Linked DNA regions of Homo sapiens. The protein of the gene in region 3 interacts with the protein of the main gene of each other region in a pairwise test. Each region holds a gene or a part of one and is shown on either strand. Other genes may lie near its edges. The genes, in order: PPARA, THRB, NRBF2 and C1orf216.

Region 1 (7,021 bases), on a different chromosome or scaffold from region 3:
CAGGGAAATTGGCCATCAGAGACACAGAGTATCTTGCTTAGGGTCCCACAGCCCCCAGCAGCAGGGACTGGAACCAGAGACTGGCTGCTCCTGCTCCCCAGCAGTTCCTTCCTGCACATCAGGGGCTTCTCCACCTGATTCAAGCGACAGGAACCCCCTGTGCATCTTCATCCTCCTGCTGGCTCAGCCTGCCCTAAACAGATGTGACCTGGGCCAGGAGTGCATGAAGGCAGGCCCTGTTGTCCTGCATGCTGCCAGCTGGACTGGTGGCCCTTCCGTGTTTGTCAGCGTGGTGATGAGGAGAGCTCCTGTAGCAGCGTCCCTTTAGGGTTGCACAGACGTGCTCAAGTCTGGCGCCTTATGTACGTGATATGTGGGAGATCATCATCTGAATGTTTGGTTTGAATCAGAAATCCCTTCTCACGGTGCACGCTGCAGGTGTTCACTAACTTGGAAAATGCCACCGCCTTTCTGGCACAATGTACCATCTTGGAACACCAGCATTCTGCCCTGAGCCAGGCCTGGCCTCAGAGGCCTGGGCCACAGGGAGAACCTCACAGCCAGGACACTGTGGCACTCTGCTGTCTAGAAGCCTGTCTCCCCACCCTTCCCATTCTAACCCCATGCGTTCCTCAGCCTCCCCACTGTGCAAGCCTAGGTAAGGACATTATGAAGACGTCAGCCTGCCTCTCACATTCCCCTGCACACTGCTGTCCCTCTCCCGCGGGCCAAGCAGACCCACTGTGGCAAAAATATAGAAGAATGACTTAAAAGCAAAGAGAAAAAAGAACCCAAAGCAAAAATGAACTCCTTCGCATGTTTTCTAACCATATACCTTTGAAAAAGCTCCTTATAAAGTGGCCTTTTCCTTAGGGCCATGATTAATTATTCATTTAGTTTTGTTTTTTATGGACTATTTAGTAACATTGTTTCTTGCTGGGTAGAGTTTAAGATGCTTTTACAAAGCAAGAAAATTGTTTACAAACAGCTGGCTTCCTTTTATTATAATTTTTGTCTTTGAGGGAGTTAATATACTCTTACAAAAATTCTTAGAAAGTCTTTAGTCACAAATATGGAAATGTCACAATGCTGGGGATAGTTACATTCATATACATTGTAACAAGGCTGAGTAACTCTTTGGAAAACTATAATTGTGTTTTCCCAAGTCAGATGAGGGCATTTTGAAATGACTTCGAATGCTGCCTCATTTTATTGTTTTTCACATTAAATGTAACGACATTTAAAGTTCTGTATTTGTCCTAATCATTCCAGACTTCTTAGAAGAACTATTTCTTTCTTTTTTTTTTTTTTTTTTTTTTTTTTTTTGAGATGGAGTCTCACTCTGTCGCGCAGGCTGGAGTGCAGTGGCACAATCTCAGCTCACTGCAACCTCCGCCTCCTGGGTTCAAGTGATTGTCCTACCTCAGCCTCCTGAGTAGCTGGGACTACAGACTTACATCACCATGCCCGGCTAATTTTTGTATTTTTAGTAGAGACAGGGTTGCACCATGTTGGCTAGGCTGGTCTCGAACTCCTGACCTCAGGTGATCCACCCGCCTCAGCCTCCTAAAGTGCTGGGATTACAGGCATGATCACCATGCCTGGCCTGGAATAACTTTTCTCTAAATTTTGTTCATTTAAAAAGAAACAATAAATGAGCAACAAAAAAGGTGAGTAAAGCAAGTGCGCTGGTTTCTCAGTGGCCCAGGTCTTTAAATCCACTGTGTATTACCCTCACAGGGCTTCTTTCGGCGAACGATTCGACTCAAGCTGGTGTATGACAAGTGCGACCGCAGCTGCAAGATCCAGAAAAAGAACAGAAACAAATGCCAGTATTGTCGATTTCACAAGTGCCTTTCTGTCGGGATGTCACACAACGGTAGGTAAGGTGGCCCTGCACATTTTCCCAGTTCGTTCCTCAGTTCCCCTTCCTTGCTCCAAGGGAACAGATCAAGCTATGGATGAATGTGCTTCAACATTTCACACCCAAGTCATTTTGTAATCAGAGTGGCCTAAGAAAATAAAAGTCGCCCAGGCGCGGTGGTTCACGCCTGTAATCCCAGCACTTTGGGAGGCTGAGGTGGGTGGATCACCTCAGGTCAGGAGTTTGAGACCAGCCTGGCCAATATGGTGAAACCCCGTCTCTACTAAGAATGCAAAAATTAGCTGGGTGTGGTGGCACATGCCTGTAGTCCCAGCTACTCGGGAGGCTGAGGCAGAAGAATCGCTTGAACCCGGGAGGCGGAGGTTGCAGTGAGCTGAGATTGCGCCACTGCACTCCAGCCTGGGCGACAGAGGGAGATTCCGTCTCACAAAAAAAAAAAAAAGAAAAAGAAAGAAAGAAAGAAAATAAAAGTCTCCCAGGTGCGGTGGTTCACACCTGTAATCCCAGCACTTTGGAGGCCGAGGCGGGTGGATCACTTGAGGTCAGGAGTTTGAGACCAGCCTGGCGAACATGGCAAAACCCCGTCTCTAATAAAAATACAAAAATTAGCTGGGCATGGTAGTGCACACCTGTAATCCCAGCTACTTGGGAGGATGAGACAGGAGAATAGCTTGAACCCGGGAGGCGGAGGTTGCAGTGAGCTGAGATCGCACCACTGCACTCCAGCCTGGGCGACAGAGTGCGACTCCGTCTCAAAAAAAAAGAAAAAAAAAGAAAAAGTCTCAAATAGCTGAGATTCAGTGGTGCATTGGACTCGCTGTTAGAAACTTCAGTGGTAAGACTTTGATACAGAATCGAAAAACCAAGTGGAAGGCACCAAAATGACAGAATGTTCACCTCGTCCATAGGAAGGGTGTACCACCTCAAACATCTCACCACGTTATGAATTTCCTTCTAGCCAATCATTTAATAGTTTCAGAACATGCTAATTGTGATGTGAATGTAAGTCGTTCATAAGAGTTGCATGTCTACCTTCTGGAAAAAGAAGCAGTTATTATATAAACTCATCCCGAAGCCCCGTTCACCTCCTTCACTCAAAGGTTGATGATGCACCTGATAGTGGTGTGCACCCTACTAATGAGACGAACGATGGTGTCACCTTCAGCCTGCACCTGTTAACGATGGTGTCACCTTCAGCCTGCACCTGTTTAAACATCTACAGTGTATGGAGTTTGAGTTTTTCATCTCTCCATAGTGGAAAGCCGAATAGTAATGAAGGATGGGTCTGAACTGCCTGTGAATTTTCATTCCTGGTTTAAAGTCCTGGGGGAGCCCCTCGTCCAGCCCTGTCCGCGCAGTCATGACCTCACTGCTCATGCCTGTGTTTCCCCCTCCAAACCCTAGCGATTCGTTTTGGACGAATGCCAAGATCTGAGAAAGCAAAACTGAAAGCAGAAATTCTTACCTGTGAACATGACATAGAAGATTCTGAAACTGCAGATCTCAAATCTCTGGCCAAGAGAATCTACGAGGCCTACTTGAAGAACTTCAACATGAACAAGGTCAAAGCCCGGGTCATCCTCTCAGGAAAGGCCAGTAACAATCCAGTAGGTGTTTGCGGCTGTTCTGGGTTCTCTTGGCAACATGGAACCAGTGTCGTAGAGGACGATTAAGGACACATGTGTTGAATGTTGAGAAAATTATATTTATCCCACAGTTAAGCAAAGGACAGCGAAGATGGAAACAGTTCATTCTGAGACTCTGAGCTGTAGCTTAACAACAACTCCTTTCTTCTTGCTTGGAGCCACCTCAAAGCTCTTAGCAACTAAGTTATTATACTGGCTATGTAATTAATACACTTAAAAAAAACCTTAATAGCTTACCAAGTACTAAGATGATTTCTTAGGAGCATTTTTTCTTAAATAGAGATAGGTTCTTGCTCTGTTGCCCAGGCTGGAATGCAGTGGTGCAATCATAGTTCACTGCAGCCTTGAACTCCTGGGCTCAAGCAATCCTCCTGCCTCAGCCTCCCAAGGAGCTGGGACTACAGGTGTGCACCACCACACCTGGCTATGTTTGATGTTGTTGTTGTTTTGTTTTGTTTTTGTTTTTTGGTAGAGATGAGATGTTTCCCAGGCTGGTCTCAAACTCCTGGCCTCAAGTGATCTTCCCACCTCGGCCTCCCAAAGCACTGGCATTACAGGTGTGAGTCATGGCACCCAGCATTAACTGGATTTAAAAAAAAAAAAACTGACCAGGCAAGATGGGTCATGCCTGTAATCCTGGCACTCTGGGGAGGCCAAGGTGGGCAGATTGCTTGAGTCCAGGAGTTTGATACCAGCCTGGCCAACATGGAGAAACCCCAACTCTACTAAAGATACAAAAATTAGCTGAGCAGGGTGGCACACACCTGTAATTCCAGCTACTTGGGTGGCTTAGGCATGAGAATTGCTTCAACCCGGGAGGCAGAGGTTACAGCAAGCTGAGATCATGCCACTGCACTCCAGCCTGGGTGACAGATCGAGACCCTATCTCAAAAAAAAAATAGAATAATAAAATAAATCCCTACTTTGAGGTGTATTAGTCTGCTATAAAGAAATCCCTGAGACCTGGTAATTTATAAAGAAAAGAGGTTTAATTGGCTCGTGGCCCACAAGGCTGTACAGGAAGCTTCTGCTTCTGGGGAGGCCTCAGGGAATTTGACTCATAGCAGAAGGTGAAGTGGGAGTAGGCGTCTTGCATGGCAGGAGCAAAAACAAGAGACACACACTTTTCACCCATCAGATCTTGTGAGAACGCTATCACTAGAGTAGCACCAAGAGGATGGTGCTAAACCATTCATGAAGGATCACCCCCATGATCCAGTCCCTCCCGCCAGGCCTCACCTCCACCACTGGGGATTACAGTTCACCATGAGATTTGGGTGGGGACACAGAGCCAAACCATATCATAAGGCTAGAAAAGGAAACCACTTACTTCCCACTCAAAATGTGCTCTTGGTCCTTTCTCCTAAAACTACTCCCTCCCTCTCAGACAAACATGCCTACATTCTTTTTCCGCCTTCAGTGAAAAGACAGTGACATCTTGGGGCTTAGAAAGGGCCACTTGTAAGCCAGGCGTGGTGGCTCACGCCTGTCATCCCAGCACTTTGGGAGGCCAAGACAGGCGGATCACGAGGTCAGGAGATCAAGACCATCCTGGCTAACATGGTGAAACACCATCTCCACTAAAAATACAAAAAATTAGCCGGGCGTGGTGGCGGGCGCCTGTAGTCTCAGCTACTTGGGAAGCTGAGGCAGGAGAATGGCGTGAACCCAGGAGGCAGAGCTTGCAGTGAGCCGAGATCGTGCCACTGCACTTCCAGCCTGGGCGACAAAGCCAGCTGTGTCTGGGCGCGGTGGCTCATGTCTGTAATCCCAGCACTTTGGGAGGCTGAGGTGGGTGGATCACTTGAGGTCAGGAGTTTGAGACCACCCTGGCCAACATGGTGAAACCCCATCTCTATTAAAAATACAAAAAATTAGCTGGGCATGGTAGCGGTTGCCTGTAATCCCAGCTACTTGGGAGGCTGAGGCAGGAGAATTGCTTGAACCTGGGAGCTGGAGGTTGCAGTGAGCTGAGATCGCACCACTGCACTCCAGCTTGGGCAACAGAGTGAGACTCTGTCTCAAAAAAAAAAAGAAAGGAAAAGAAAGGACCACTTGTTATAGAAAGCCTGTCTTTTAAGGTAGCTCTGGACCTTTTCAGAGGCAGCCAAATTGCCCCTCATGGTTCGTCCCCCACATCCCCGCCTGCCTGGCCTAAGTCCTCCTTCCCCCTCCCCAACAGTTAAATAAGTCTTTGTCTCCATTACAAAACAAATCTCAGAGCTACCTTCAAAGAAGAGCCAGCCCTCAGTTGGTGAATGAAGATACTTTGACATTTTCCTATGAGCATGGTGAAACAGGTTTAATTTGTATTAAATAGCTTGAAGCAATCCTTATTGGGAATTACAAGGTGGAATTTTAGTCACAGGAAAATAAAGCATTTCACAAGCTACTTACTTTCATGAACAAACCAAACCTCTTCTTTACTGAGTCCTTTAATTCTTCAGTGAATTCTCCAATTAAATAGGCCGAGACATTTTAGAAGTTTCCAGCAGACACCCACACTAGGCAGCTCCAGAGGCTTGTCCCAATTAGAACTTTCCTGGATTACGAGAGTGAAAGAAAAGGTAACTTTTAGCTTCGAGTCTCTATCCTGGATATGATTAGTACAGCCCAAAATTGGGATGGCTAAAACTTTTGTTTGCCAGCTTATATTTCTCCCTTGGATTTCAGAATTGAAAGCAGGCTGGGCACAGTGGCTCACACTGTAATCCCAGCACTTTGGGAGGCTGAGGCGGGAGGATCACTTGAGGCAATCCAAGAGTTTGAGACCAGGCAACACAAGGAGACCTCGTCTCTACAAAAAATGATTTTTTAAAAAACTAGCTGGGCATGGTGGCATGTGCCTGTGGTCCCAGGTACTTGGGAAGCTGAGATGGGAGGATGGCTTGAGCCCAGGAGTTCAAAACCAACCTGGGCAACATGGCAAGACCACATCTCTACAAAAAATAAAAACATTATCCAGGCATGGTGGCACATGCCTATAGTCCCCGCGACTTGGGAGGTTGAGGAGGATGCCTTGAGGCCAGGAGTTCAAGGCTGCAGCGAGCCACGATCGCGCCACTGCACTCCAGCCTAGGCGACAAAGCGAGACTCTCTAAAAAAAATTCGAAGCAGAGTTAAGTTGTCTTTCTTCCTAACAACCTGCCCCCACCATGGGGTGCGAATGGGACTCCTGGAGTCCTCCTGCACCTCCCCTTGGAGACCACCAAGCTCTAGGAACCCCATCACCCTCAGCTGAGGGTCACATGCAGCAACTAGCAGGCGGGAATCTGTTTGCATTTTGGCCTTAAAGAAATAAATAATAGGCCAGGCGCGGTGGCTCATGCCTGTAATCCCAGCACTTTGGGAGGCTGAGGCAGGTGGATCACCTGAGGTCAGGAGTTGGAGACCAGCCTGACCAATATGGTGAAACCCCGTCTCTACTAAAAATACAAAAATTAGCTAGGCATGGTCGTGGGCACCTGTAATCCCAACTACCCAGGAGGCT
Region 2 (7,021 bases), on a different chromosome or scaffold from region 3:
TATACCTACAAGTATCATTTTATGACTAAAAATTAAAGCTCAGATCAGCCAAGAGACTTGTCCAGAATATTTTTATTCTTAATTAGGTGATATTTCCATAATGCCACCCATTCCTGCATTCATTCATTCATTCATTATCTTCATCCATTTCTAATCTGGATCATTAAAGAAATAAAATCCCCATCAGTTAGAAAATCACTTAACATTAAATACTGAAATGCTTCACACTAAATAATGAAACTCAACACGACAATGTCAATGCTATTTCAATGTAATCATATAGAAACACGTTCCTGTCAGACAGAGGAGCTATAGGCATGTACATACAATGGCAGAGAAACCCTTGAAGTAATATTCAACTATGAATAGGCTGTGAGATGGTCTTTAAATTAAGCTTCACTTGAAAACATTTTAAAGAGAATCTATCATGTAATCTGCTTTCAAATTAAACTTGAAATTCCCCCAAATGTAGAGCTAGCTTGCTAAAAATATTCATTATTGGAATTAAATTAGAAAAATTTTGCCACATCTCGGAGAAAGTGAAATCTGTTCCCAAAGACATCACAGCAATGTATAACTGCCTCAGCTCCAGCAGGCATCATCTCTCAGTGGACTATTCTAAGAGTCTCTAACTGGGCTCATCACCTCCAGTCTCTCACTCAAGACCTATCCCAAAGAACTCTTTTAAAATAAAAATCTGATTTGCTGAACATTCTTAAGTCTCTTCAAGCTATCAAGACAAAGTCAATCTTCCTTATTGTGCCCAGGAAGGTCCTCGCCATCTGGCTCCTGCCTGCTCCAATGGCCTCATTTATAGTCCTTTGCACATGAGTCAGGCTGGGCTCCTTACAATTTCCCAAATGCTTCATACTTTTACTTTCACTTCATAGGCATATCATATTTATTTCTGCCTAGAACCCTCCCACCCCTATGGGTTCCCACAATGTACATTGTACTTAACTATGTCATTGGACTTACAAATATTTTAATTGTCTGCTAAAGTATTAATGCTACCACTACTATAAATAGCTAATATTTAGAAATACTTGACTGTGACTCAAGCACTATATTATTTCATTTAATCTCCACATATGATAGATGAGGAAACTGAACACATGCAATGAAGCCAGGTGAAACCAGCATACAAATCCACACATTTCCCACTCCACGGCCCCAGTTCCAAACGTCTACACCAGCTGTTCTCAATAGGAGCAGTTTTGCCTCCCAGTAGACACCTGATAATATCTGGAGACATTTTTGATGGTCACAACTGGAGGGTTGGGGGAGCTATTGGCATCTAGTGGGTAGAAGCCAGCAATGCTGCTAAACATCCTGTAATATATACGACAGCCCTCCACAGCAAAGGATTATCTGGCCGCAAATGCCATAGCGTAGAGGAATTACCAGGCTCAAAACTCAAATAGTACCTCTGCTGAGAAACACTACTCTACACTAAATCACCTCCTGTAGATTGCCCCAGAAGATTCCGAGCATCTCATCCATACGACAAGAATTTTTAAATGCTCTACCATGGTGTCTTGGCACTTACCATCGTGTCTGGCACTTGGCAGATGTCCCATGCATTTGTGACCAACGGACAGACTCCAGAAGAAAAAAATTACTTATTATAAGGCTTGATTTTTGTGGCAACTTCAATAAAGATAAATTGAAACACATATTCTTAATCAATGATACATGAATGCATGTGCACCACATTCTAGTGCATGGCTTCACTTTAGCAATACCTTATGTTTATGAACCCATAGAGTGGGAGATAGATTAATAAGCCAGATGCCTAGGATCTTTTTCTCACAAGTCCTCAAGGAGATGAGATGCTTTTCAAATCCCTTATAACTGCTACATTACAGGACAAATGTATAGGTTTATCATCTACATAGGTCATAACTTAACTTGTTTCAAAAAATATTTTCTGTGTAAGGTTCCCTTGGTTCCTTTTTTTTTAAAGAAAAATAACACAAGACTAAACAACCTTATTCTATTCCCTGTTGCAGCTACAATTCAGATATAGGTACTTTATTCTAGATCTCCAGATGTTAGAAGTATAGCAGAAATTGCAGTGAAGCCTAGGTAAAATTTTAAAAGTAAACAGAAATACAGCAGAAATAAACCATTCTCCAGCTTATATAAATTAATACACCTAAACAGCAGAAAGAAAGTCAAGGAAAGATTATGATTATAATGTTTTCAAAGGGACAGAAATTTAGCAGGACTTTTGCATTCTTGCAAAACACTTCAACAACAGGCAGCATTAGCCAGTGTTGTATACAAGTTGCTAGGGGTTTGTGTGTGTGTGTGTGTGAAAAAGCAAAAAGGTTCTGTTGTGGTGCTAGATACTGGTCATTTGTCACTTTTTATGAACTGTATTAAAAGGTTAAAACATATGAGCCTGATTTTTAAAAAGTGTGATATAGTGAACTGTTCCTCACAACCTATTGTGCTGAACTTTTGCCACTTAAGGTTTTAGACACACAAGCACACACACACACACACACACACACAAATAAAATGGTGATCAAATGAATTTTGCTACCTGCTCTCCCCTTTCTTGGACATTTATAATGCATGCTAGTATAAAAATAGGCTCTGGAAACTTTTACAAGTTGTTAAACTCAAGATTTCCCAAACATAATTGAGCCTAGAGTAAAATAAACAAATACAGCAGTAAAAGAAGCAAAAAGTAATAATATAAGAAGAGGATCTGTCAACATATTCAGGAGCAAGTAGAAGGGACTGAAAACAATGACAGGGTTTGTGGCTTGGGACATCAGGGTGACTGTAGCATTTCTCACTGTGATTTAAAAGCTGAGCATGGGAATCACAGCAGAAGCCAGAGACAAGCAGTGCCTTTTCCACTGTATGTGAGAACATGACACACACTTGTCACAGAGACAGATTCTGCAAGTATGGACATGCCAGTTGTTAAGACATTTATGACTATAAGACAGAAATGTGCAAAAAGATGACCAAGCCCAAGAAACATTATGATTGCTATCATCAATCATTATTTTCTGAGCACCTGCTTTGTGTAGACATTGATGAAATCAGAAAAAACAGAATCCCAAGAGAAACAAATGGCAAAGGGAAGAAGTACATCTGAACCATCTTGAGAACCAAGGAACAACATGTCACAAGAGTTACAATACTCAACAGGTTCCTGAATGTCAGGATCATATATTATGCTACTAACACCATGACTATCTTGTCAACATTCCTCATCACAAACATTCCTGAGCCTCCAGGAGTCAAGTAAGTATATTCCCTAATAAAGAAGATATGCCTGCTTTCAGTCTACATTCCTTTGTCCACACTTTTGTTTTAATAAACTTGTCACTCATGACTTTCTTATAAATGCCTAAATTCTTGATCACAGAAGAGAAGCCATGACTCCCTGAAGACCCTCTTTGGGAAGTAGGAAGTTGAATGAGCAATTCAGTCCAGACCAATCCTTTCCTAATTGTGTATGCCTCGTCTGCAGTCCACTCTTAGAACACAGAGACATGTATGTATTGAGGTGTTTGTGCATGTGTGCATATGATATGAAATAAACTATAGATAGTATTTGTTAAAATAGGATTAGGAAAAATAAAAATTGGATAAAACATGCAGATCAGCAAGACAAACGTAAGTTGAGATATGTAAGCCACAAGTTTCTTCACTGTGATGAGTTGGACCATGAATTTGCCTTCTTTTTTTTTTTTTAATCTCTAAATCACGATTGTCTCAGCAGATCTGAGACAGATGTCAATGATTTGCACATTGTCCATTGTTCAGTAATTTTCAAATAACTAGAATAAAATAAGCTATTCAATACAATTCAATATATCTTAACTGCTAAAAGAATATACTTCAAGATCCTTCACTGCCTTAAATGAATGAGTAGTAACTGGAAAAATAGCTTTAATAGACAGAAGGCACTGTCTGACAAATAGCAAACAACTGTTTGCTTTTAGCACATAAAGTGGTAAGATGATATCACAGAGGGTTTTCGTTAAGTTCCTTTAAATTATTTTGCCATAAAAGATTTTTTAAATAAAAAATATTGCTTCTTAGAATAATTTTAAACATATCGATGGATGTTGGTCAATCAATAAAATCAACTGAATGATTTCAGTGGTGGTTCATGCCTGTAATCCCAGAACTTTGGGAGGCTGAGGTGGGCAGATCACGAGGTCAGGAGATCGAGACCATCCTGGCCAACATGGTGAAACCCTGTCCCTACTAAAATTACAAAAATTAGCTGGGTGTGGTGGCATGTGCCTGTAATTACGGCTAAGGCACAAGAATCCCTTGAACCTAGGAGGTGGAGGTTGCAGTGAGCCGAGGTTGCACCACTGTACTCCAGCCTGGCAACAGAGCAAGACTCTGTCGCAAAAAAAAAATAAGAAAAAAAAAAGATTTAAACCACTATACCAATATCATTTAATTTCTGGTAAGCACTGACCAGCAGACAGTACAAGATTATCACAGATTATCTTCTTGCAAAAGCCTCAAATGCAAGTATTCTGGGTTGCTACAGGTAGATCTGCCTTCTGTGCAAATTTAATGTGTCTGAGCAAGGGAGATGAGCCCTGTTATCAAGCACATCTACATCTATCAGAAACACTTTCCAGGGAGTATATCAGATTGTTAGGACTGACTGTCATGATGGAAAAGCTACAATATGGTTCTCAGGACAGTCAAGGTTCCTAGGTCCTAATTCCAGACTCCCCTGATTTGCTATTTGGAAAAGATCCTGAAGTTCACAGCAGAACTCAGTTTCTCAACTCAATAAAAATAGCACTGCACAAGAGCTGACAGTATATAAAGACTTCAAAGTCCTTTGAAATTAGGACAGTAGGGACCAAACAACATTAGCATTGAGCATAGATCACTATTCTAGCTGTCAGTTGGCCAGGTTCCTGAGAGGAAGATATGGAAATATATTACTTGTGACTCAGTGATTTGGATACTCCCCCCCACTTGTTTAAATGCCAAAATTGACTAACAAGTTTGGGAACTTAAATTGGAGAATGAACATTTTAAATCAGAAGCTCACCGGTCTAAATATATTCAACTCCCCTACTACTTGGATACAAGAGATTCTTGAGTGAATCTCACTGGAATTTACATTAATATACATGGGCTATAGAAATCACAAACAATCACCTCCTCAGATATAAAATAACTATTTTTAGGGGCCATATGAGAGACTCCAACAGGTATACTCATCTCATCACAATGGAGACAATTTCAGAATCCTTTTGTATTAATATGTTGTCTCATAGGTCACTGGGCTGCATGCTGAACTGAAAAATGGCTAGCAGAGCCAGGTACATAGTAGATACATAAATATTTGTAGACTGAATGAGGAATCAAATCAAAGAATCAGAATGACTTTAAATAAAACAAGGAGTTAACTTGCCATCCATTGCTCAACCAGCTTTGACACTAGAACAAGCCCTTCAAGCAAAACAGACAGCTGTGATCTGGACATATGATGCAATGCAGGCAGCAAACGTTCACTCTGGACAAATCCAAGTCCAAATATGACACTTAATACCAACCCAGAAGGGAAAGAGAAGCACTGCCTTTTCTACCCTTCCATTCATTCTTCCAACAGTGTTTCACCTGTGCCCATGTACCAAGCTCTTTGCTAGGCTATGGGGAGTCAAAGATGAATAAACCCACACATCGTGCCTCATCACAACTTAGAGGTGGGAACAGAAATGGAAACAAACTGCCCTGCAGGGTGATAAGAGCTATATAGACTAAAGCCCAAAGCATCAGGGGCCACATATTCAGGGGTGTTTATGGCCATAGGGTCATTTTCAAGTACCTCGTTGTCCTGTCCTCTCAAATTGCTCTAATCAAAAGTTGGCTGACACACTAGATATTTGGGAAAATTAGCTTACAGAGTGTGGTAACCACTCATTCCTCTAGGTTTCCTGAGCTTTATTTCTGCATTGGGATTCATCACCAGAATCTCCACTGATAGGCCATAGTAGCTCAGGCCCCCAACAATAAACATACTGGGTTACTTTTCATTATTATGTCTTCTGCAATTTTTTTCCATTCCAGAGTTGGTAACAAGACAAGATCATATAAAGAACCTCACTTCACTTTATGTAGAATTGAAGTTCAAGTATTATCCATGATATAATTTGATATTTCATACGAGTATATACTAGTTGGCAAGCACCATGGCAGGCACTCTACATGTGTCATCCTTACAAGTTTAATGCATGCCACCTCCAGACCCCCTTTTTTTCTGTTAACTTGGCTACTACTAAGAAGCTCAGAGCCAAATTAAATACTCTAAAGCAGTAAGCACTTAGGATTGTAGTTTAATTATCTTCCCTCCTCTACAAGATTTTGATCTTTCTTCCCCTCCCATTTTTAACAGTCTGATTTTGTGAAATTTTTACTATGCATTTACTCAGCACACTTATGAAAGTCAATACTCTAGACACAAAAACAAATCACCATAATCTTCAATTATAATTTCCTTTTGCTCTCAATTGGCAAGAGTTTCCATGAATAACTAATTTGAAGATGACTCCTTTGATATTATGCTCTGGTCACTTGAAAACTCAAATAATGCAATATTTCCCACCATCATTTGGTTCAGAATACTTTTATGAAGCGGCAAAAGAGGGCAAAAAGAGGCTGGCTGACTTAACTAATAACATATGATAACCATCAGGTTATTTTCAAAGCTATCACCAAGACCTATTTATTTCTATCTTGTGTTGGATCCTGACCATTACATTTTGCCCCCTCACCAACCACCACTTTTGCAGCCCAAATTGTACCACCATGCACTGGTTGGTCCACTTAGGGCTGCCATTGCCAGAGGCACTGCCAGGACCTGCTGAGTGAGAAGACACTGCCATCACCCAGTGAAGTCTAGTCCCTGGAATTTCACTCTTAGCACTGGCAATGCTTCTGGAACTCATAAAGATTCTGCTGAAATTCAGGGAGTTGAAGGTCAATGTCTTCCAGGGATCAAGGTAACATGTCA
Region 3 (7,995 bases):
AAATACAAATATTAGCTGGGCGTGACAGTGTGCACCTGTAATCCCAGCTACTCAGGAGGCTGAGGCAGGAGAATTGCTTAAACCCGGGAGGCAGAGGTTGCAGTGAGCCAACATGGCACTACTGCACTCCAGCCTGGGTGAAAGAGCGAGACGCTGTCTCAGAAAAAAAAAAAAAAAAACCACCAACAAACCTCTCACTAGGGACTCTCCACTAGACCATACCCAAATAGGGCAAATGCTTAGCTATAGCCAATCAAGTAATTACTTCCACATTCAAGGAATAAAAGTTCACTGCCTCTGCTGCTGTGGGCAGCTCTCTGAAATTTTGAGTGCTGCCTGATTCACGAGTCATTCTTTGCTCCAGTAAACTCTTCTACATTTAATTCGTCTAAAGTTTCCCTATTAACAGATGTTGGCTGGGCACAGTGGCTCACACCTGTAATCCCAGCACTTTGGGAAGCTGAAGAGGGTGGATCACCTGAGGTCAGAAGTTTGAAACCAGTCTGGCCAACATGGTGAAACCCTGTCTCTACTAAAAATACAAAAATTAGCTGGGCAAGGTGGCTCGGGAAGCTGAGGCAGGAGAATCCCTTGAACCTGGGAAGTGGCGATTGCAGTGAGCTGAGATCGCACCACTGCACTGCAACCTGGGCGACAGAGCAAGACTCCATCTCAAAAACAAACAAACAAACAAAAACAGATGTGAAATCTTTCATTTGTATGTGCCAGATATTTTGTATTACTCTTTCCAGATCCGGTCTCTACTTCTTACTACCCTGCTCCCTGCCCTTGGAGGCTGATTTTTATGAATTACATCAATGGGCTCCCTTGCCTTCTGGCTTTTGATTGGGTTTGGACAATGGAAGTCAGGGGAAGAGGAAATAAGGTGATTTCCCTGGATCCTCCCTGCAAGGTCACCTCAGGATAGTGTCCTTGATTGAAGGTCAGTGCTTCTTCAAACTATATTCTACATTTTTCTCCTCATTTCAGATTTCCCTCTTATTCATTTCTCTTTCTTTTTTTTTTTTTTTTTTTTTTTTTTGAGACAGAGTCTTGCTCTATCTCCCAGGATGGAGTGCAGTGGTGCGGCCTCAGCTCACTGCAACCTCTGCCTCCCAGGTTCAAGTTATTGTCGTGCCTCAACCTCCAGAGTAGCTGGGACTATAGGCATGTGCCACCATGCCTGGCTAATTTTTGTATTTTGGATAGAGATGAGGTTTCGCCATGTTGGCCAGGCTGGGCTTGAACTCCTGGCCTCAAGTGATCCGCCCACCTCTGCCTCCACCTCCCAAAAGTGCTGAGATTACAGGTGTGAGACACTGTACCCAGCCCCTTCTATTTCTTTCTTTATAGCCTAGGAGTTATTGCTTTTCTCATGTAAATACCTAAACTCTGGCCACACCTTTGTAAAACAGTCCGTTTATTAAACCCTTCTGGGATTATTTTGAGTATGTCATTGATTTGCTTTAGATACAATGCCTCTGGTAGTCTCAATAATGGTCCGAAAGATACCCAGGTCCTAATCTGTGGAAGCTGAGAATGTTACCTCATATGGCAAAGGGACTTTGTAGGTATGATTAAGTTAACCTTGAGATAGGAAGACTATCTTTAACTATTTTGTGGACCAAATGTATTCACAGGGTCCTTACTAGAGGGAGGCAGAAGGATTTTAAGAGGAAATGACATGACAAAAGCAGCAAGAGCTTTGAAGATGCAGTGCTGCTGGCTTTGAAGATGGAAGAAGGGGCTGTGAGTCAAAGGAATGCAAAGAATGTAGCTCCAGAGGCTGGAAAAGAAGGGGGCAAGGCCTTGCTGTATACCTTTGTTTTGGCGCTATGAAATTATTTTGGTCTTGGCCGGGCATGGTGGCTCACGCCTGTAATCACAGCACTTTGGGAGGCCGAGGAGGGTGATTCACGAGGTCAGGAGATCGAGACCATCCTGGCTAACACGGTGAAACCCCGTCTCTACTAAAAATACAAAAAATTAGCCAGGCGAGGTGGCAGGCGCCTGTAGTCCCAGCTATGTGGGAGGCTGAGGCAGGAGAATGGCGTGAACCCCGGGGGTGGAGCCTGCAGTGAGCCAAGATCGAGCCACTGCACTCCAGCCTGGGTGAAAGAGCGAGACTCCGTCTCAAAAAAAAAAAAAAATTATTTTGGTCTTCTAGCCTCCAGAACTGCTAGCCTCCAAATTTCTGTTGTTTTAATCCACTAAATGGGTAGTAACTTCTTACAGCAGTCATAGGAAATTAATACAGTGCCCAAGATAGAACTTTTCATTTTCCATACAAATTAGCTCCTTCCTATTGTTACCAGGGGGTCTTTGTTCTTAGAGCTCCCAAGATGGTGGCAGGCCACTTCCAAGATGGCGGCAAGCCTTTTGTTCTCTGACCTGGGGTTCTTGGCCTCACGGATTCCAAGGAATGGAACCTTGGGCCATGCAGTGAGTGTTATAGCTCTATTAGAAGCCGTGGGTCACAGAAGAGAACCGTGGAACCCAGCAACTAGTGTTCAGCTCGATTAGGACAAACCCTGGGCACTTAGCCTTGCAGGAACAATGGCGAGCCTCTAGCCCGATTGGGAGCAGCAATGGGCGCCTCGCTGGATCAGGAGCACAGTGGACACCCTGATGGATCCAGAGGGGTGGAAGTCAGCGGCGGGTCTGTGATGGCAGCAAACAGCGGTGGTGGACGGTGAGTGAAAGCTCAGCTCAAGCTGTAACAAACATGGACCAGAAGAGTGTGCAGTTGCAAGATTTAATAGAGTGAAAACAGAGCTCCCATACAATGGGAGGGGACCCAAAGGGGGTTGCCACTCCCTGCTCGAATGCCTGGGTTTATATCCTGATCATTGTCCCTCCCCCTGTGCTCTCAGGCGATATATGATTTGACTATTTCTTTACCTTCTGCTTCTAGCCTAATTTGTATTTTAGTGAGCCCTCTTTACTACCTGATTAGTCGGGTGTGAACTGAGTTACAAGCCCTGTGTTTAAATGTGGGTGTGGTCACCTTCCCCAGCTAGGTTTAGGAATTCTTAGTTGGCCTAGGAAATCCAGCTAGTCCTGTCTCTCACTATCTTGTCCACTTGGTTGTTTACTTTTTTATTTTTTTATTTTTAGAGACAGAGTCTCTCTGTGTCACCCAGGCTGGAATGCAGTGGTGTGATTGGTCTCAGCTCACTGCAACCTCTGCCTTCCAGGTTCAAGCAATTCTCCTGCCTCAGTCTCCCCAGTAGCTGGGATTACAGGCACGCGCCACCACACTTGGCTACGTTTTAGTGCTTTTAGTAGAGATGAAGTTTCACCACGTTGGCCAGACCAGTCTCAAACTCCTGGCCTCAAGTGATCTGCTCTCCTTGACCTCCCAAAGAGCTGGGATTACAGGGGTGAGCCAGTGTGCTAGGCCACTTGGTTGTTTAAATACGAGATTTGATTCTTCCATTTTCTGTATGCTTTACTGCCATTCCATCACTAACTCCTCTCAACCTGATGCCCAAAAATATATCTTGAATATATCTACTTCTCTTCCAAGGTTTCCGGCACATGGTAGAAACATGATAACTATGTAATGAGTGGATGCATGACCCAATCTTCCCTACTTCCATTCCAGTCTGAGCGCCCATAATTAGTCAATCAACTAGCTTGTCTTGGTTCTTTTTCCTTAGGCCTTCCACAATCTATTCTTCACATTACAGGGAAATTAATCTTTTCAAAACTGTAAATTAAAGCAGATTATTCTCTAGCTTAATATCCTTTACTTATTTCCCAATGCACTTTGAGTAAAATTCAAATGTTTCATTGTGCACTGCAAGGACACCTATGTTTTGGAAGTTTCCTATCTCTCTGGTATCTTCTTTTGCATCTCTCTGAAATGCTGCAGCTCCCGCCACCCGACCTCCCCGCCTTTAGAGTTGAGGCATAAGACATTTCCTTTGTCGAGAAGGGTCTTTGTTTAACTGGCATTTTAAGGTTTAATCTTAAAGATTACGCCCTTAGCCAGGTGCGGTAGCTCATGCCTATAATCCCATCAGTTTGTGAGGTCCAGGAGGGCGGATCATTGAGCTCACTTGAGCTCAGCAGTTCAAGATCAGCATAGGCAACATGGCGAAACCCCATCTCTACAAAAAATACAAAAATTAACCTGGCCTGAGCACTTGTAGTTCCTAGCTACTTAAGAGACTGAGGTGTGAGGATCGCCTGGGGCAGGGGGCGGGCAGAGGGAGGTTGCAGTGAGTGGAGATTGCGTCAGCAAGACACTTTCTCAAAAAAAATCACGCCCCCCATGAAAGGCTTTCCTTTACCACCCAACTCCACCTTGGTTACTCTATCACAGCTCCCTATGTGTTCCCTTTCCAGCATAAATCACAACTATTTGTCAGTGAATTCCATGACAGAACGAACCTAGCTTTTGTTTGGCACATAATTGTTAAATGAATGCAGTATTATATTTGGCTAGACCAAAATTGTTTCCCTATCAGTTTGTGAGCAACTTGAGGGCAGAGCCCTAAATCATTCGAGTGTGCTGACCTCTAGGGGGGTTAGTCCAGTGCATGGTCTAGAATTGCTCAAATCGGCCTTTTGAAAAAATGAATCATGTACAATGATAAAGGTGTGGACAGGACCACAAGTAACGGTGTAACGATTAGCAGATTTAAGGAAAAGTCAGTCTAAAAGGAAACGTGAGAAGCTAATTGCAGAAGACAGCCATTTCAAGTCTTCAACAGCAAGGCTGTACCTCCTCACGTGACTTCAGTGTAGACTTTAAGAACCTAAACTAACGCTTCTCGCGAGAGGAAAGATTGACCGCTCGCAAGCGTACATCAGCTGGTGCCCCGCCTTCCCTGGGCCCCACCCACTGCCTGTCCTCATTCCCACCTTGAACCAGCCTTTTGCGCGTGTGACGTCATGGCGCCGTGCGTGGCCTCGGCGGTGGCGCAGGGGGCGGGCCCGCGGCGCGGCGCCGGAGGAGGAAGTGGTGAGGTTGTTGCTCCTTCAGCGCCTATCGCTGGCTCTTGGGGCGCAGAGAGGGGCCGCAGTCTCCGCGGCTGCGTCGAGCTCCCTTGCAGTCCCCTCCATGTTCCCCGGCGCCACTACTCCCCTTCCTAAGGCCGCCGCTTACCCCGGGGTCTATGGAAGTAATGGAAGGACCCCTCAACCTGGTGAGTGTCCCACAGAATATAGCGTTCGTCTTGGGTGCCTTTGCCTCAGGAGCCCGGCCCCGTCCCCGGCGCGTCGGCTAACCCTTTAGGCTGGGAGGTTGGTTTGGCAGGAGTGGTCGCAGAGGCTGTGAGGGGCTGCTAGGCAGGCCCTGGCCCAACTGCGGCTCCAGGCTAGCCACTTCAGACTTTGCCCTCCTGGGGGATCCCCGGGAAGTCCTGGCGCCCCCTGTCGCGGGGCCCCGGGCGAGGGGATGCCACCACCTGGGGCTGCCACCTCCTCTCTGGCTGGGGGAAGTCCTCTTAGCGCCACGTAGCCACCTCCCTACAGCCTGGAGAGGCACTGAAGCCGGCCAAGGCAGAAATGGTGTGATACTGGTTTTAAGTTCTAGCAGCAGGGTCTGAGTCTGAGTCGCCCCGCTTTGGAGAGGTGGAGGAGTGAATAGCCTCCTCACCCTCCACTTCCCCCTCCTCACCCTTCACTTCCCCCTCCTCACCCTCCACTTCCCCCTCCTCACCCTCCACTTCCCCCTCATTTCTCACATACATTCACATGCATAAACTGAGTCTACCGTCTTCCAAATATATTAGAGACAGCTGGGAAAAAGACAGCCGTTCCTGTATTTAGCTCAGATTCATCAATTTAGGCATCATGAAAGTGTAATAGGTGTTTGCTGTTCTCAGGAAAATGGCTGATAGCCTGTTTACTTGTGTTTTAAGGCGTTTCAGGTGTTGCAATTAAAAAACAACACAACAGAACCCCACTAACAACGGGAAGCATGAGTTCTTTTCAGACTGGCCATTGCATCTTTTAGTTTTCCAGAGAGGTTACCCATTTTGGATGTAAAAGTCAGATTACTTAAGGTTGCACACAGGAAGAACTTTTGAGTCACAGGTTTGCAATTCATTTGCGATGGTGGAATTGAAAGAAAGCTCTATAGAGGATTCTTTTCTCACATTAGAACTCTGAGTCCTAGAAGAGCAGTAGAGTCAGGTGGTTTAAGACTCTAGGTTTTGAAGCTATGCTGCTTGGATTTGAATTCTAACCTCGTCACTTGATATCTGTGTTACCTTGGGCAAACTACTTGGCTTCACTCGGCTTCAGGTTTTTTGGGAGGATTAAAGGAGTAAATAGGTGTAAAGCACTTAGAACTGTACTAAGTACATAGTACAGTGTAAGAGTTAGCGATTATAACCAGACCATAAGCCCTTAATTTAAAATCTATTTGTAGAATAAAGGTTTGGACTTGAGCTTTAAAAGCCTAAGATTCTCGGACCAAATCACTGGTGCCAGGTTAACTGTTGTGAGGCGCCCCTCCCTTTTAAGTTGGGTCTTGCCCCAGGTGGTAGGTATTTACACTTAAGACGAATTGGACTACATTTGCGAGTTTTTTTTAACCAGGGAACTGGCCAGGCGCCGGGGCTCACGCCTGTAATCCCAGCACTTTGGGAGGCCGAGGCGGGCGAATCACTTGAGCTTAGAAGTTCGAGACCAGCCTGGGCAACATGGCGAAACCCGGTCTCTACAAAAAATACAAAAATAGCCTGGCGTGGTGGCGCCCGCCTGTGGTCCCAGCTACTCGGGAGGCTGAGGTGGCAGGATCGCTTGAGCCCAGGAGGTGGAGGTTGCAGTGGGCCGAGATTGTGCCACTGCACTCCAACCTGGGCGACAGAGCGAGACTCTGACTCAAATAACCAGGGAACTGTCTTGCACTTTTCTTGTTTTTAAGGCGACATATAGTTGGCAATGAAATACAGTGGATGGCTCAATACTGAAACTTCACAGGAGTATTACTAGAAATAATCAGCTGTTTACGAAGTGCTTCAGAGTTCAGGTGTCCTTGCCAAATGAGCATTGGTTCAGTTCTAGTTAGCTTCACATTATTTGGCTGCAGAATAACCCCCGCCAACTGCCCCACGAATGTGTGATGTTTTAAAAGGAGACTAGAACTGGGTGACAGTTGCAGATAGAACTGCAGAATCACTACCAGTTCAGGAAAAATTAGTTAAATGGTGGCAATACCATTTAAATTCTCCTCCATAAAACGGAGCGAGTTTCGACAGAGTCTTTTTAAGCAGGCTAGCGTAACTCCGTATTTCAGCCATAAAATTTATGTAGGCAAGTATCAGAAATTTGGCATCTTGAATTCTTTTTTTTTTTTTTTTTTGAGATGGAGTCTCTCTCTGTCACCAGACTAGAGTGCAGTGGCGCGATCTCAGCTCACTGCAACCTCCGACTCCCTGGTTTAAGCGATTCTTCTGCCTCAGCCTTCTGAGTAGCTGGGATTTCAGGCACGCGCCGCCACGCCCAGCTAATTTTTGTATTTTTAGTAGAGACGGGGTTTCACCATGTTGGCCAGGATGGTCTCGATCTCCTGACCTCGTGATCCCCCCGCCTGGCCTCCCAAAGTGCTGGGATTACAGGCGTGAGCCAGCGTGCCCGGCGGACACCTTGAATTCTTAAACCATTTGAGTCTTGAAAGATCTAATTTCCAGCATAGTTGTTTATTGGAAGGTAACAGTAGAACAGACGTTGACGGTTACTTGAATGAGTACCAATTACAGGCCTCTGGCACTCAGAATTGTCACTCACAGTTTTATAAGATGAGGTTTTTGAAAATTCAGACTTTTTTTTTTTTTTTTTTTCTTTTTTGAGACGGAGTCTCGCTTTGTCACCCAGGCTAGAGTGCAGTGGTGCGATCTGGGCTCACTGCAGCCTCCACCTCCCGGGTTCAAGCAGTTCTCTGCCTCAGCCTCCTGAGTAGCTGGGATTACAGGCATGCACCACCCTGCCCGGCTATGAAAATTCTGACATTCTTTTATGTCAGTGAACACCTAACTT
Region 4 (7,885 bases), on a different chromosome or scaffold from region 3:
TGAGGGCAGAAGGGGATCGGGAGGGCCAGGGCCTCGCGGGGTCCCACAGGCAGGCTCAGGACTGCTGCTACGGCTGTCAATGCTCAGGGAACTGCTGGCATAGCCGTTGTCCTCCAGAGGGGAGCAGACTGTGCCAGCACCACCCATCTTCTCAGGCTCAGCCCCGGGAATCTCTGCCCCCTCTGGGGGGCTGCGCACCCCTTCCTCAGGGGATCCAGGGGCCTGGAAGGCTTGGTTGTCAGAGGGTGACTCAGAGGAGCTCCTCCTCAGGATAGGTTCCACTCTGCCTGGCATCCCATGCCAATTCTCGTTAGCATCCTTGGCACTTGCCATGAAGTTGGAGTTGCTGTCTGGTTGGAGCTCGGGCTGACATAATCCAGGAGGTGGGTCCCCCAGGAATTGGCCCCCCTCAGCTAGCCCTGGCTGGATGGCGAACATCTAGCCTGTAAAGGGAAAGCAGGAGACCGAGTCACAGTAGGACAGGGTGGGGTGCCTGAAGTCAGGGCAACTTAGCTGCAGGGACAAGGCTGCAAGCAAGAGCCTGGCCACTCCCTGTCAAGCCCTTTCTCTTGACTCTGGTAACACTTCCCTTCGTGGTTTTCGTCCTCCCTGTCTACCTGTTCATTCTCAGTCTCCTGCAAAGGGTTTTTCCTCCGTCCTCAGAGCCAGGCTGTCTTCTGATTTTGTGCATTTCTCTCCAGAGGACCTCATTCTCTGCTGTAGCTTCAAAGACCATCATATGCTGGTGACTCTCAGATCTGTCTTCAGCCCAGATCCAACTGCTATCCAACCCTGCAACCAACCATAGTCTCCTCAAATTCTACATAACCAGTCCAGGCATGGTGGCTCATACCTGTAATCCCAGCACTTTGGGAGGCCGAGGCAGGCAGATCACCTGAGGTCAGGAGTTCGAGACTAGACTGGCCAACATGGTGAAACCCCATCTCTACTAAAAATACAAAAATTAGCCAGGCATGGTGACAGGCACCTGTAATCCCAGCTATTTGGGAGGCTGAGGCAGGGGAATCACTTGAACCCAGGAGGCAGAGGTTTCAGTGAGCCGAGATTGCGCCACTGCACTCCAGCCTGGGTGACAGAGTGACATCATCCCCCTCCACCACCGCCCCCCGCCAAAATTCTACATAACCAAACAAGCTCTCCTTCAGTATCCTCAGCAAGATGGCTCTGTACTCCATCCAGAAAGCTGAGAGCATCCTGGGGTCCTCACTATCCTTCCTTCTCCCATCTCATTAATAACCACATTCTGACCATTCTTCCTCTTCCAGGCCATTTCTGACCTGGATTATTGCCTCGGCCTTTTCACTGATCTCTCTGCCTCCAGTTAAAAATGTAAATTTCACTTGTCACCACTCCTAATGCCCTCCCTGAATTCCTGCTAAACCTCTACCTGGCCTACAACACCCTGTTTGATCTGGCCCCTGCTCACCCCTCCATACCTGCCTCTTGCCACTCTGCCCCTCCCATCATAGCAAACTGCCCAGAGATCTCAAAACACACCATTGTTTTTCTTACAGTATTCCTTTGGCCTACAATATCCTTCCTCTCCCCTCCCCTCAAAGCTCCTCCCTTCTCCACCCAGCAAATTCCTTTTTGTACTTCAAAATTAGCTGTAATATCCCCATGTTTCCATGTCCCCATGTCTCTGAAGCCGTCTTGATACTGCCCCAATCAATATTACATAAACAAGCACGGTTAGTTATGCCTTCCTCTGGGTCCCCACTGCGCTGGGTATACACTGTCTTATCCAACTTTGCATCCGTCCCTGGCATACATGGTCGACGATCAGTGAATGTCTATTCAACTGGCATTTTTGGTTTGTGGTAATGATCTTGTAATAGCAGTTTGTAATCTGGCTTGGACCTCCTGTATATATCCTCCATCATATTCCCCAGAGTCAGCCAGCATAGAGCCCTGAACCAGGCTGTCTGTGCATACAGGTACTTGCTAAGTGAGTGAATGGGAGAAGAGACTGCAGTGAATTTCCATGCTCAGGAATCCACTCTTGACTCCCCAGGGCTGGAAGAGCTGGGTTCTGGAAGAGCTGGGTTTGGTTCCCTTTCCTACCCCAGCCAGGGAGCCCCGCCTTCCCCAGTGACAAGCTTTTCTTCTGAGCCTGCCCCCTTCCCTCCCAATGCCTCTGGAACACAGCCACTATCTTGCGGTCCCCGTCCCTAGCTTGCTCCATTCTGAGGCCCTGGAGGGAGGGCATACCACACCACTCTTCTCTCCTCCATAACCTGCTTCTAACCAAAATTAGGATTTGAACTGACAAAGGGATTCTACTGACCAAACAGCACTGGGATTAGAACAATTGAAGAGCATGAAGAGGAAGGGTATTGTAAGTGGAGCCGGCACTGGAAGGCGCTCCATAGGTGGCATGGACCCTCCCCACCCCCAGCAATGGGCAGAGAAGTCCTGGGGAGAAGGGTGTAGGAACAGTTCGTTTCTAATCGCCCTCTAAGCAAGGCTTGTGGGAAGGTGCCTAGAGATCTCCCCTCGCCCCAATTTTTTATTTTTCCTATACTTGGATGGGGCCGTGAAGGAAGCTGGGATGGGGTGGGGGTGGCGCTAGGGATCACAGGGTTCTCAGAGATAGTAAAATGAGAACCCCGACACGCCAGGACTAGGTCTCCGCCCAAACAGGAGGCAGCCTCCTTTTCTGGCCTTGCGGGAGTGGGAGACCACCCCAGGAGACAGAGACCATCCTTCCCTAGTCTCCTCGAAGGAGGCCACTGTGACTCCCCGCTTCCCGCGGCTGAGCCCCAAGCCCCACCCCGCCTCGGGCCCCAGACTCGGACTCACGGCGTAGAGGCGCCCGCTCCGGCGCGTCTGGCTCTGGCTCCGCCCGGCCCTGGTGGTGTCTAGTCCCTGGGCTGGGGGTTCCTCGGCCTGGGCGTCTCCGCGGTCCAGGCGTGGGTGCGGGGCTCCCGGGCAGCGCGCCCAGCCCCAGTCCCGGACTGCGGAGTCAGGCGGCGTCTGCGCAGCAGGGCGGAGCGACCGGTCCCACGTGGGCCGGTTCGGTTTTCCGCGGAGCCCCGCGCCAGGCCCCTGCGCCGGAACCGCTTCGCCCCCGCGCGGGGCCGCGTTGACCCAGGCCTTCCAGGTCCGGTGCTCTCTCCTATTGGCATTCGCTGGGCCCTTCCCATCAGTTAGCCTCGCTGCAGACACCGTGCCATTTTCAAGTGAAATCTGATTAGTCACCACCTTCCGGCGTTAAACTCCTCAATGGCTTCCCCACCGCCGGGACAACCCCTAAGGCGGTAGCCGCGGGGCTCTGTGCGTCCTGCCCTTCGTCTGCCTCTCCGGCTTCGTCCTCTACCCTCCCTCTCCGCAGTTACCCTCCCACACGCCCCTTTCCGCCACGCGGCTTTGGCACGCACTGTTCCCTCGGTCTAGCATTCTCTTCCCCCTCTCGACTTACTCCTATTTCAGATCTCTTCTCGGAGAGATCTCTGACTCCCTAGATCACGTTCGTTCCCCCCTTTATGTCAGAGCACATTCCTTTTCTTCATAGCATTTATCACAATTTGGAATTATATATTCCTTTTTGTGCTTACTTGACTAAAGTCACTGAGGCCGGGTGCGGTGGCTCACGCCTGTAACCCCAGCACTTTGGGAGGCCGAGGCGGGCAGATAACCTGAGGTCAGGAGTTTGAGACCAGCCTGGCCAACATGGTGAAACCCCATCTCTACTAAAAATACAAAAATTAGCCGGGCTTGGTGGCGGGCGCCTGTAATCCCAGCTACTTGGGAGGCTGAGGCAGGAGAATCGCTTGAACCTGGGAGGTGGAGGTTGCAGTGAGCCAAGACTGCACCACTGCACTCCAGTCTGGGCAACAGAGTGGGACTCCGTCTCAAAAAAAAAAAAAAAAAAAAAAAAAAAAAGAGAGAGAGAGAAAGAAGATCCAAGCCTGGGACAGGGCTCAGGGCTGATGTCCTGTACCCGGGACGGGGGCTCTCCGCAGGACACAGAGCCCACCCATGATGCCTGTGAAGTGGGTACCAGTGCTTTTGCCCAGGTGAGGAGGAACAGCGTGATAAAAAAGGGTCTTGGGTTCCAAACTCCAGTGGATTCTTCTCAGAGCTCCACTCTACTGAAGCTTGACCCCCCTCACTCTTTTGCACCCTGGGGAAATGTGAAGTTGGGGGCCCTGTTTGGAATAAAAGAGAACAGAGTTCAGTAATTGCTGACCCTAATATATGAGGTGCCCTCTTCCAGTTTCAATTTGATTCCAAGTCACCATTCTGCAACCTAGAGACTAATTGGCAAATTAAATCACACCAAGAAATCCTATATGCAAAAACAGGGAAAATGGAAAAGAAATTTTTATGATTATGATGACTATTTTAAAAGGGAAAAGGAAATAAGAAGGAGAAGGCAGAAGTAATTCAAACTTTGCACACTCCTCCAGCTAAGAAAATACAGGTGGAGACGTCAGCCCCATTTCTACATCAGATCCTGTGGCCTAAGTCTTCTCCCTTCCCTTATCCACTTCAGGTTCCCCTGGCCTTCAGCCTGGGGTGACCCAAATCCTCACTTTTTTTTTTTTTTTTTTTTTTTTTGAGATGGAGTCTCGCTCTGTCGCCTAGGCTGGAGTGCAGTGGCGCAATCTCGGCTCACCGCAACCTCCACCTCCCGGGTTCAAGCGATTCTCCTGCCTCAGCCTCCTGAGTAGCTGGGATTACAGGTGCATGCATCACGTCAGCTAATTTTTGTATTTTTAGTAGAGATGGGGTTTCACCATGTTGGTCAGGTTGGTCTTGATCTCCTGACCTTGTGATCCACCCACCTCGGCCTCCCAAAGTGCTGGGATTACAGGCGTGAGCCACCATGCCTGGCCCAAATCCTCACTCCTAAAGGCTCTCAGCTTTGGTGATCTAGGGTTATGCAGTTCTGCCCAGACCACAGAGCCATAAAGTCATCAATTGTTTGTTCTGCCCAGAATAGCCCTTCTCCGCCTCTCTTTGGACTCTGTCTCTCCCAGCTTAACCATGTGGGTCAAATGAAAGCCTGAAGAATCCAGGGATAGGAGCTCCACTCCAGGTGAGCCAGTCAGAGTCCTTCTCTGGGATCTTCTGAAACGAAATTAAAGGAAGACGAGGCAGGGAAGAAACAGAGATGAGAGATAGTTCTGATAATGTTGCAGACCCTGTTTCCTGCATCTAAACTTATAGTTTTGTATGCCTTATTTTGCCAAGCCTAACTTGAGTGGAATTTCTTTCACCGACAATTGAAAGAATGCTGATTACTACAATAGCACAAGGTGGTGACCCCAGGGTCTCTGGGTTCCATTCACGCACCTCTCAACACTTATTAGGTAACAGTAACTCCCTTTCTCCTTGGTAGCCATGATCAGTCCAGTCTACACTGAGACCACCCCCTTCTCCTATTCCTCTAGTGCTACCAGGAGCCGAAATCCCAGGGAATCATCTTTGTGTTTCTTGGTTAGAAGAAACATTCCTCCCATGATGCTATCACCATGTTTTGTTTTGTTTTTTTCCCAAGACAGAGTTTCACTGTCACCCAGGCTGGAGTGCAGTGGCGCGATCTCAGCTCACTGCAACCTCCGCCTCCCAGGTTCAAGTCATTCTCCTGCCTCAGCCTCCCGAGTAGCTGGGGTTACAGGCGCGTGCCACCACACCCGGCTAATTTTTGTATTTTTAGTAGAGACAGGGTTTCACCATGTTGGTCAGGCTGATTTCAAATTCCTGACCTCAAATGATCTGCCCGCCTTGACCTCCCAAAGTGCTGGGATTACAGGTGTGAGCCACTGTGCCTGGCCGATGCTATCACCTTCTGACCTGCAATACCCAGAATCTCAGAGACAGGAAGAAAACTCTTAGTCCTTAGGTAAATCATATAAGGTGCCACAACCACCGCTACCTCTTCTTGTTATGCATTCTGGCCACAAAGGACAAAGCATTATATACATTGATTTAAAGCCTATATTGGGCCTGGTGTGGTGGCTCACACCTGTAATCCCAGCACTTTGGGAGGCCGAGGCAGGCGGATCACTTGAGGCTGGGAATTCGAGACAAGCTTGGCCAACATGATGAAACCCCGTTTCTACTAAAAATACAAAAATTAGACAGGCATGGTGGTGCGCGTCTGTAATCCCAGCTATTCAGGAGGCTGAAGCAGGAGAATCGCTTGAACCCAAGAGGCAGAGATTGCAGTGAGCCAAGATCGTGCCACTGCACTCCAGCCTGGGCGATAGAGTAAGACCCTGTCTCAAAAAAAAAAAATTAAAATAAAATAAATAAAGCCTATATCGTGCTCTGCAGGGCAGCACCCCAGCCTGGAATAGCTGAGTCATCAATTCCATTGTTCTAAAAAGCTAGTTATTCCTTTTTTTTTTTTTTTTTTTGAGATGGAGTCTCTCTCTGTCACCCAGGCTAGAGTGCAGTGGCATAGTCTTGGCTCACTACAACCTCCACGTCCTGGGTTCAAGCAATTCTCCTGCCTCAACCTCCTGAGTAGCTGGGACTACAGGTGCCCGCCACCTGGTGAATGTTTGTATTTTTAGTAGAGGCAGGATTTCACCATGTTGACCAGGCTGGTCTCAAACTCCTGACATCAGGTGATCTGCCTGCCTTGGCCTCCCAAAGTGCTAGGATTTCAGGCGTGAGCCACCACACCTGGCCTAAAGCTAGTTATTCCTAAATAATACAATACCTGCTAAGTCAAGTGAATTCATTTAAAGGAAATCAGATTGTAGTCTCTCTCTTTCTTTTTTTTTTCCCTGAGACGGAGTCTTACTCTGTTGCCCAGGCTGGAGTACAGTGGTGCAATCTCCATTCATTGCAACGTCCGCCTCCCAGGATCAAGCGATTCTCATGCCTCAGCCTCCTGAGTAGCTGAGACTACAGGCGTGTGCCACTGCACCGGCTAATTTTTGTATTTCTAATAGAGACAGGGTTTCACTATGTTGCCCAGGCTGGTCTCAAATTCCTGGCCTCAAGTGATCTGCCCACCTCGGCCTCCCAAAGTGTTGGGATTACAGGCGTGAACCACCACACCCAGCCTGTAGCCAGTTTTGTTAATCAAGGGCAGTGTTGTATGGAATATTCTAGCACTGTATAATTAATACAGTCAGTGCTCACACAGCAGTCCTGGTCACTCCATAATTTTCAGAGCTCAAAACCTGAAGAAAAAAAAGCTCCAAATGCAGGGATGTCCATGTCCACAGGAAGACAAAAAAGCAGCTATAGAGATGCCTGTTATTCATTTGCCAGAGGCTTTTCCAGTGAGGACACCAGAGAATAATTCACCCCCAAGTGAAAGGGTATCTGTGGCTGGGTTCACCTACCCACATATATGCCAGGAACTTAAGTGGCAAGGACACAGAAACCTCCAGAGATGGCCAGTATCAGCCTGAACAGGGCTTTGCAAAAGGCCATGCCATCAAGACCCAATGATGGACAGCGGGTAAGCCTCTTGGCAAACAGATGTCAGAGCCAAGAGAGGCTAGCAGTGAGTAGCCAGATCCAGGTCCCAGGGCCTGGGGTGTCAGGCAAGGAGACCAGAGAAGATGAGAGGAATTTCTCATCCAGGAAATAGGACAGGCCTAAGGGTTATTCATAGGTGGATAATTTCTCAATATCAGTATTCTCAGGAAGAAAGGGGTGGGTAAGATCAAGGTGTTTCAGCTTCAAAGACCTTGTCCCTTCCCACCCATTCATTTACATGTATCATACAGTTACAGAGTGCTTACTTTGTGCCAGGTACTGTGTTGGGAATTCAGAGCAGAATCAGAACTGGTCGTGGTCTTGGGGAGCTCCTTGTTTAGAAAGGGAAACAGAAGTCATGGTGTGTTGGCTCATGCCTGTAATTCCAGCACTTTGGGAGGCCGAAGCGGACAGA

What was found.
Region 1: the proteins of NRBF2 (region 3) and PPARA interact in a two-hybrid assay, tested with the Homo sapiens proteins (one study listed by BioGRID).
Region 2: the proteins of NRBF2 (region 3) and THRB interact in a two-hybrid assay, tested with the Homo sapiens proteins (one study listed by BioGRID).
Region 4: the proteins of NRBF2 (region 3) and C1orf216 interact in binary tests that used the Homo sapiens proteins (3 or more experiments, as listed by UniProt).

What each region holds. Positions count from the first base shown.
Region 1 is NC_000022.11:46,216,523-46,223,543, forward strand, and holds part of PPARA (peroxisome proliferator-activated receptor alpha), read left to right. Parts: intron 1-1,740; coding exon 1,741-1,879; coding exon of another isoform or gene 1,880-1,883; intron 1,884-3,289; coding exon 3,290-3,492; intron 3,493-7,021. UniProt on the Homo sapiens protein: Ligand-activated transcription factor. Key regulator of lipid metabolism. Activated by the endogenous ligand 1-palmitoyl-2-oleoyl-sn-glycerol-3-phosphocholine (16:0/18:1-GPC). Activated by oleylethanolamide, a naturally occurring lipid that regulates satiety.
Region 2 is NC_000003.12:24,484,851-24,491,871, forward strand, and holds part of THRB (thyroid hormone receptor beta), read right to left. Parts: intron 1-7,021.
Region 3 is NC_000010.11:63,128,345-63,136,339, forward strand, and holds the start of NRBF2 (nuclear receptor-binding factor 2), read left to right. Parts: upstream 1-4,983; 5' UTR 4,984-5,071; coding exon of another isoform or gene 5,072-5,126; coding exon 5,127-5,156; intron 5,157-7,995. UniProt on the Homo sapiens protein: May modulate transcriptional activation by target nuclear receptors. Can act as transcriptional activator (in vitro). Involved in starvation-induced autophagy probably by its association with PI3K complex I (PI3KC3-C1).
Region 4 is NC_000001.11:35,715,884-35,723,768, forward strand, and holds the start of C1orf216 (UPF0500 protein C1orf216), read right to left. Parts: upstream 3,002-7,885; 5' UTR 2,824-3,001; intron 1,029-2,823; exon of another isoform or gene 618-1,028; intron 444-617; 5' UTR 439-443; coding exon 1-438.